Homo sapiens: one gene and its partner. The protein of the gene in region 1 interacts with the protein of each later gene in a pairwise test. Each region holds a gene or a part of one and is shown on either strand. Other genes may lie near its edges.

Evidence for each region. The genes of interacting proteins can lie anywhere in the genome.
Region 2: the proteins of KATNBL1 (region 1) and SNAPC3 interact in a two-hybrid assay, tested with the Homo sapiens proteins (one large-scale study listed by BioGRID and IntAct).

Annotation. Positions count from the first base shown.
Region 1 is NC_000015.10:34,200,097-34,203,596, forward strand, and holds part of KATNBL1 (KATNB1-like protein 1), read right to left. Parts: intron 1-3,500.
Region 2 is NC_000009.12:15,425,876-15,429,375, reverse strand, and holds part of SNAPC3 (snRNA-activating protein complex subunit 3), read right to left. Parts: intron 1-3,500.

The sequences.
Region 1 (3,500 bases):
TTACAATCCTCTGGCTAGACAGAAAAGTTCTCCAAGTCCCCACCCAACCCAGAAACCCAGCTGGCTTCACCTCTCACCTACTCGGAACAACTCAAAGTTGATATCTCAAGGGTTTAATATTTCCTGAATGATGATTCATCACACCACTTTCTCTCTCTCTCTTCTTTTTTTTTTGAGATGGAGTCTTCCTCTGTCTCCCAGGCTGGAGTGCAGTGGCGCCATCTCGGCTCACTGCAACCTTCGCCTCCCGCATTCAAGAGATTCTCGTGCCTCAGCCTCCTGAGTAGCTGGGATTACAGGTGCGTGCCACCACGCCCAGCTAATTGTTTTTTTTTTTTGTATTTTTAGTAGAGATGGGGTTTCACCATATTGGCCAGGCTGGTCTCGAACGCCTGACCTCTTGATCCACCTGCCTCAGCCTCCCAAAATGCTGGGATTACAGGCGTGAGCCACCACGCCCCGCCCACCACTTTCTCTTAATTCAGTTTTCCACAGTAAGCTGATTTGAGAAATAACGTCAAACTCGGGAAAGCAGATCAAGCATGAAAATAAAGACAGATGTCTGGAGATTCAGTGGGTACAATACTATATCATTTCAATCAATTTGGATCAAACTGAATTCCAACTCTCTTATGACTGAGATACCCTGAAATAAAAATTACAAAAGAGATGCCAAGTGGGAATTAGCTTTCCTACTACCTCTTCCTCAGTGTTTTTGTTTTGTTTTGTTTTGTTTTTTGAGACAGCGTCTTGCTCTGTCGCCAGGCTGGAGTGCAGTGGCGCCATCTCAGCTCACTGCAACCTCTGCCTCCCAGGTTCAAGCGATTCCCCTGCCTCAGCCTCCCAAGTAGCTGGGATTACAGGTGCACACCACCACACCTGGCTAATTTTTTGTATTTTAGTAAAGACAGGGTTTCACCATGTTGGCCAGAATGGTCTCGATCTCCTGACCTCGTGATCTGCCCTCCTCGGCCTCCCAAAGTGCTGGGATTACAGGCTTGAGCCACCACACCCGGCCTCTTCCTCAGTTTTAATCAAGTCCACTTAGATTACTACATTAGGGAACTGGGACTAATAATGGGAAAATAAAATTAAAGAACTAGGTAGATGTTTATCACCATCCATAGTTGTGGACCTACACAGGCTTTTTAAAAAACATAACTATGCCTTATACTGGAAAGTAGGGAGAAAAAAGTAAGGTAGCAAAACACTATGTTACCACTTAGGTTAAAAAGTGTGTGTCTGTGAGGGACTACTTGTATATTCACTAAATATCTTTTGAAGGATATGAGAGAAACTGGGGACAAAAGTCACTTCTAGTGAGAGGATATGTGTGGCTAGGGGGTGAAGGGAGAAGACTTTTCCCTTTTGGGCCTTTTGAATTTTGTATAATGTGCAAGTATGTTTTAACTTAATTATAATGTATTAGAGTATTATATACATATTTTCTTAAATGGCTATAAAACACCTGAATCTTTGGGAAGACTTAGGACTTCTTACGCCTAGAAGTAGATGGTTATGATTATTCTAGCATGTTTTGGTGAATTCGCCAAATTCCAATTTACTTTCCCTGTTAGAATAACCCAGTATTTTCTGGAAATATTCAACAGGGAGGAAAAAATACTTGATTCTGTTTTAATTGTCTTCTTGGACTCAGAAATGGAAAATATATATACAACTGGCCCTCTGTATCCGTGGGTTCAGCATCTGTGGATTCAATCAATTCCCAATCAAAACTATTTAGAAAAAAAATACATCTCTACTGAATATGTAGACTTATTTTTCTCATCACTATTCCCCCAATAATACAGTATAACAACTATTTACATAGCATTTACATTGTACTAGATATTACAAATAATTTAGAAATTATTTAAGGTGTATGGGAGGATGTGCAAAGGTTATGTGGAAATACTACACCACTTTATATCAGGGATTTGAGCATCCTCGGATTGTGATATCATTGGGAGGTCCTGGAACCAATCGCCCATAGATAATGAGGGATGAATGTATACATACATAAAACATTGTCACTTTAAGGATCATTTTTGACCCTTGTTTGCCTACTAAAGGTATTTCTGATACTTTCAAAACCAATAGACTCTCTACATATGAGAGGATATACCAATAAAGTAGTATTCAACTCTCAAAATGATGAGCTAATATAAATTAATTAAAAAACTCTATCTTCATTATTTGGACTAATGTCACCACCCTACGACACTTGTGCCTAATTTCTACAGTACCAGAAGTCAACAGGGTTAAGTATACCCTAAGCCTTGGAAAAAAGGGTAGATCATCCTTTAAGAATTAACAAAAATGATACTAGAGACATTCAAAATCTTTTTATAACAACGGTTCTTAAACCTTTATGTTCCAAAACTTGTGAGGATTATATTACATCCCCAACAGTTACAGTGGTTGGGCACCACCATATCTCCTAGGCTGAAATCAGAACGTATATTAAGGTTTGAAAATGCCTCCTCTCTCAGGGAACACTTTCTTCTCCAACAGAAGAATCACTTGCAGGCTCAAGAAAATATGACTCCTGTGTCCAAGACTTAACTATAACAAAAATTAACATATTAACTTTCATTTAAGAATAAAATCTCGGCCAGGCGCGGTGGTTCACGCCTGTAATCTCAGCACTTTGGGAGGCCTAGGTGGGCGGATTGCCTGAGGTCCGGAGTTCGAGACCAGCCTGGCTAATACGGTGAAAACCCATCTCTACTAAAAATACAAAAATTAGCTGGGCATGGTGGCAGGCACCTGTAATCCCAGCCACTGGGGAGGCTGAGGCAGAAGAATTGCTTGAGCCCGGAAGGCGGAGGTTGCAGTAAGCCAAGATCACGCCATTGCACTCCAGCCTGGGCGACAGCAAGACTCTGTCTCAAAAAAAATAAAAATAAATAAATAAAATCTCTCATCATACTGTTTCACCTAAACTCTGGATTCAAATCTCCAACTGCCTACTAGCCAGCTCCACATGGATATCCAATAGTCATCTATTCTTGAACTTAACATATTAAAAATAGAACCCTTAATATCCCCCCTCTCAAATCTGCTCCTCCCAACAGTCCCTAACTCAGTAAACGGAACCATCCTCCTTCCAATTTCTCAAGCCTGAAATAAAGGATTCATCCTTGATTTCTTTTTTCCTTAATAACCTACATCCAATTTGTTGACTTTGCCTTTATAATATATTCCCAAGCTGTCCGTTTCTTTCCATTTCCATTACCACCATTCTAGACCAAACCACCAACTCCTTTAGACTATATAATAGCTTCCTAAATGCTTCAGCCACACTGGCCTTCTGTCCTTCAACATTTCAAACTTATTTCCATTTTGTGGCTGAGCCATTCTTTCTGCTTAAAATATTCCTCCCACACACTCACCACCCAATCAAGAATAACCCCACCCTCACTTACAATCATTCTCTATAGCAGTACCCTGTATTTTTCCCCCACCACATTTATCACCATCTGGAAATTAGCTTATGC
Region 2 (3,500 bases), on another chromosome or scaffold:
TCATCAATTGGTTGGATAAAGCTCATTCTCTTGTATATTCCTCAGAAATGGCCAGCAGGTACAGAAATTACCCAGGTTTTCGTTATGTCGAAAACTCTTTTTCTATAACCTTGACATTTGAGAACATTCAGTTAGATATAAAATCCTTCAATTCACACCTTCATTGAGCTTTAAAAAAAAACACTGCTCTATGTTGCCTTGCTTTGTATGTCAGTTTTTCAACATGTGATGCTTTTTGTAAGTTTGCCTTTGTAAGTTATATGTTCTTTTTGCACAGAAGACTTGATGATTTCATCTTTATCTCTGAAATCTAATAGTTGTACTAAAATATATCCCAAAAGTCAATAAGTCTGGGTTAATTTTTCCAGGTACCTAGGGAACCCTTTCTAGATTTAGTTTTTTTTTCAATTTCTGGAAACTTTTGCTGGATTATGTTTTTAAACATGAATTATGTTCCATTTCTTTTTCTTCTTCAGGGACTCTGATAATATGAATATTATGTCTTTGCCTATCTACCTACCATTCCCTACTTTCTCGGATTCATCTTACTTTTTTCTTTGTCATTTTCAATTCTCTTCGTTGTTTTTATGCCTTTCTTCATTGCCTCTTGCTTTCATTTCAGTCTATTTTCCCTTAGGTATCTTACAATTTATTCACTTATGAGGTAATTGTCTTTTTCTTCCATTTCTTCCCTTTGTTTCATCAACTCTTTTTTCATTTCTCCTTTAGTCATCATTTCCATTCTTATTAATAGTTTTAAAAATTCTAAGCCAAGGTAAACATTTTTATACCCTCAAATGCTTATTTGAGTATATTCAATTCTGTTTGGAGTACAGACTTATAGGCTTTCTCTTTTTTTTTTTTTTTGAGACAGAGTCTCGCTGTGTCGCCCAGGCTGGAGTGCAGTGGCGTGATCTCGGCTCACTGCAAGCTCCGCCTCCCAGGTTCACGCCATTCTCCTGCCTCAGCCTCCCAAGTAGCTGGGACTACAGGCGCCCGCCACCACGACCGGCTAGACTTAACAGGCTTTACCTGTTTCCGAGTGGAACAGGTAGTCTCCAAAGTTGATCTGTATAAACAGTTATTTCCTGATTATCTGCAACAAGCTCTCGTTAGATTTTATTTCCTCTTGCTCATTTTTGTAACATCTGGGGCACAGTGATAGTTTACAAGATTCCCAGTTTGATGGTGCTCTTTTCTGTCATTCTAGCCAACTTCAGATATATGAGAGCTGTTTGACAGTTTTTTTTTTTTTTTTTTTTTTGGAGACAGAGTTGCGCTGTGTCACCCAGGCTGGAGTGCAATGGCGCGATCTCAGCTCACTGCAACCTCCACCTCCCGGGTTCAAGTGATTCTCTTGCCTCAGCCTCCCGAGTAGCTGGGACTACAGGCGGGTGCCACCACGCCCAGCTAATGTTTGTATTTTTAGTAGAGGTGGGGTTTCACCATATTGGCCAAGCTGCTGTTGAACTCCTGACCTCAAGCACTCCACCCTGTTTAAGTTTTTTTAAAAAATCATTTGTGGTTGGTTTGGTGGAATAGGAGTTTTGAGTTCTCCAATTTCATGGTTCTTTTGTTTTTTGTTTTTGCAGGACTCTGTAAGTTCCTTTTGTTAACCTTTAAACAGTACATCCTGGACCTGTAAACAGTGCTTTCTTGGTCACAAAAGTGAGGGGGATGGGCAGAATAATCTAAAATTTCTATTGTATTAAAAGTAATGTTGCTGAAGGGCTGGGCGTCGTGGCTCACGCCTGTAATACCAGCCCTTTGGGGCAAGGCCGGCAGATCACTTGAGGTCAGGAGTTTGAGACTAGCCTGGTCAAAATGGTGAAACCCCATCTCTACTAAAAATATAAAAAATTAGCCAGGCATGGTGGCACACGCCAGTAATCCCAGCTACTTGGGAGGCTGAGGCAGAAGAATCACTTGAGCCCAGGAGGCAGAAGTTGCAGTGAGGAGAGATTGAGCCACTGCACTCTAACCTGGGCAACAGAGTGAGTGAGACTCTGTCTAAAAATAAATAAATAAACAAATAAATAAGTGATGTTGCTGAAGCTTTTGGAATGACAAGTAAGTTTTAGCAGCACCCATGTATTAACAATTATCTCTCCTATTCCTAGGAATTAAAACCAACTAAGTAGTCAAAAAAAATGTCAAAACTGCCAAAGCTATGTAGTTTGCTATAGATTAAGGGAGCAACATGTATCAAGGAAGAATCAATATCTACCAACTACCTTTGGTCCCTTATATGCATAAAACGAGCTCTTTCATTTGATGTGGGAAAGAAAAAGTACCAGAAATTTATTTTATGTCATAATAAAGAAATGATGTACTTATGTTTTATTTTTATAATATAATAATGTGAAATTATTGGTGAGGAAAAGGAAGGTTCAGAGAAAGATAAAGCATAGAGATACAAATTTAGGCTTTTGCCACAAGTCTAATTTTTTTTTGGCAGGACCATTAAGGTTAACAATGGTCATGTATTAAATACACTAGCTTCACAGTATATCAAAATAACCCCAGTTGAAGAATACCGTACTGATTTACATTAGATTATATATAATTCTACCCACAAATCCTGTTTGGAGGGACTAGAAGAAACCAAAGAGATCTAGTTGACCTAGTAGTGCAAAGTAGTCAAGGGAAATAATGTTTAAGCAGTCTTAAAATTACTATTTAACATGGCTTAACAAAATTACTATAAATCAATGAATACATTATTAACTATAGCAAAAAAGAGTCTGCTTTAATATGATTATCATCAACGTTCTTTTTTCAGTCTATCTCTAAAAATCACTTCCTGAGTCTTCTGAAAGTTTCATTTATTCCACTCATTCTACAAATATTTGTTGGCTCCCTACTATGCACCACAGTTCTAGGAATTGGTAATATAGCAGTGAGTGTGGCAGATGTAACTTAAGGAACTTTCAAGTGTAGCTAAGAAGACAGAAAATTAAACACGTATATTACAGATGTGATGAGCATTTCAATAGGGAAGCATAGGGTGCTACATGAGCATACAAGATGACCTAAATGGAGTCCGTAGTCCTTTAGCTAAGACTTGCAGGATGAGTAGAAGTCAACAAGGTCAGGAGATAAGCAAGAATGACTGTTCTGGGCAAAGGCCTGGAGTGAGAGAGCATATTCGAGGAACTGAAACACAGTGCAGTGTGGCTGGAACACTGCAGAGAGAAAGCTTAAAAAAAATCAGCAAGGTCGGGCCAGGTGCGGTGGCTCATATCTGTAATCCCAACACTTTGGGAGGCCGAGGTGGGTGGATCACGAGAGGTTGGCCAACATGGAGCCTGACCAACATGGAGAAACTCCGTCCCTACTAAAAATACAAAATTAAGCGTGGTGGCACATGCCTGTAATCCCAGCTACTTGGGAGGCTGAGGCAGGAGAATCACTTGAACCTAGGAGGCGGAGGTTGCCGTGAGCCGGGATCGCACCATTGCACTCAGGCCTGGGCAACAAGAGTGAAATTCCATCTCAAA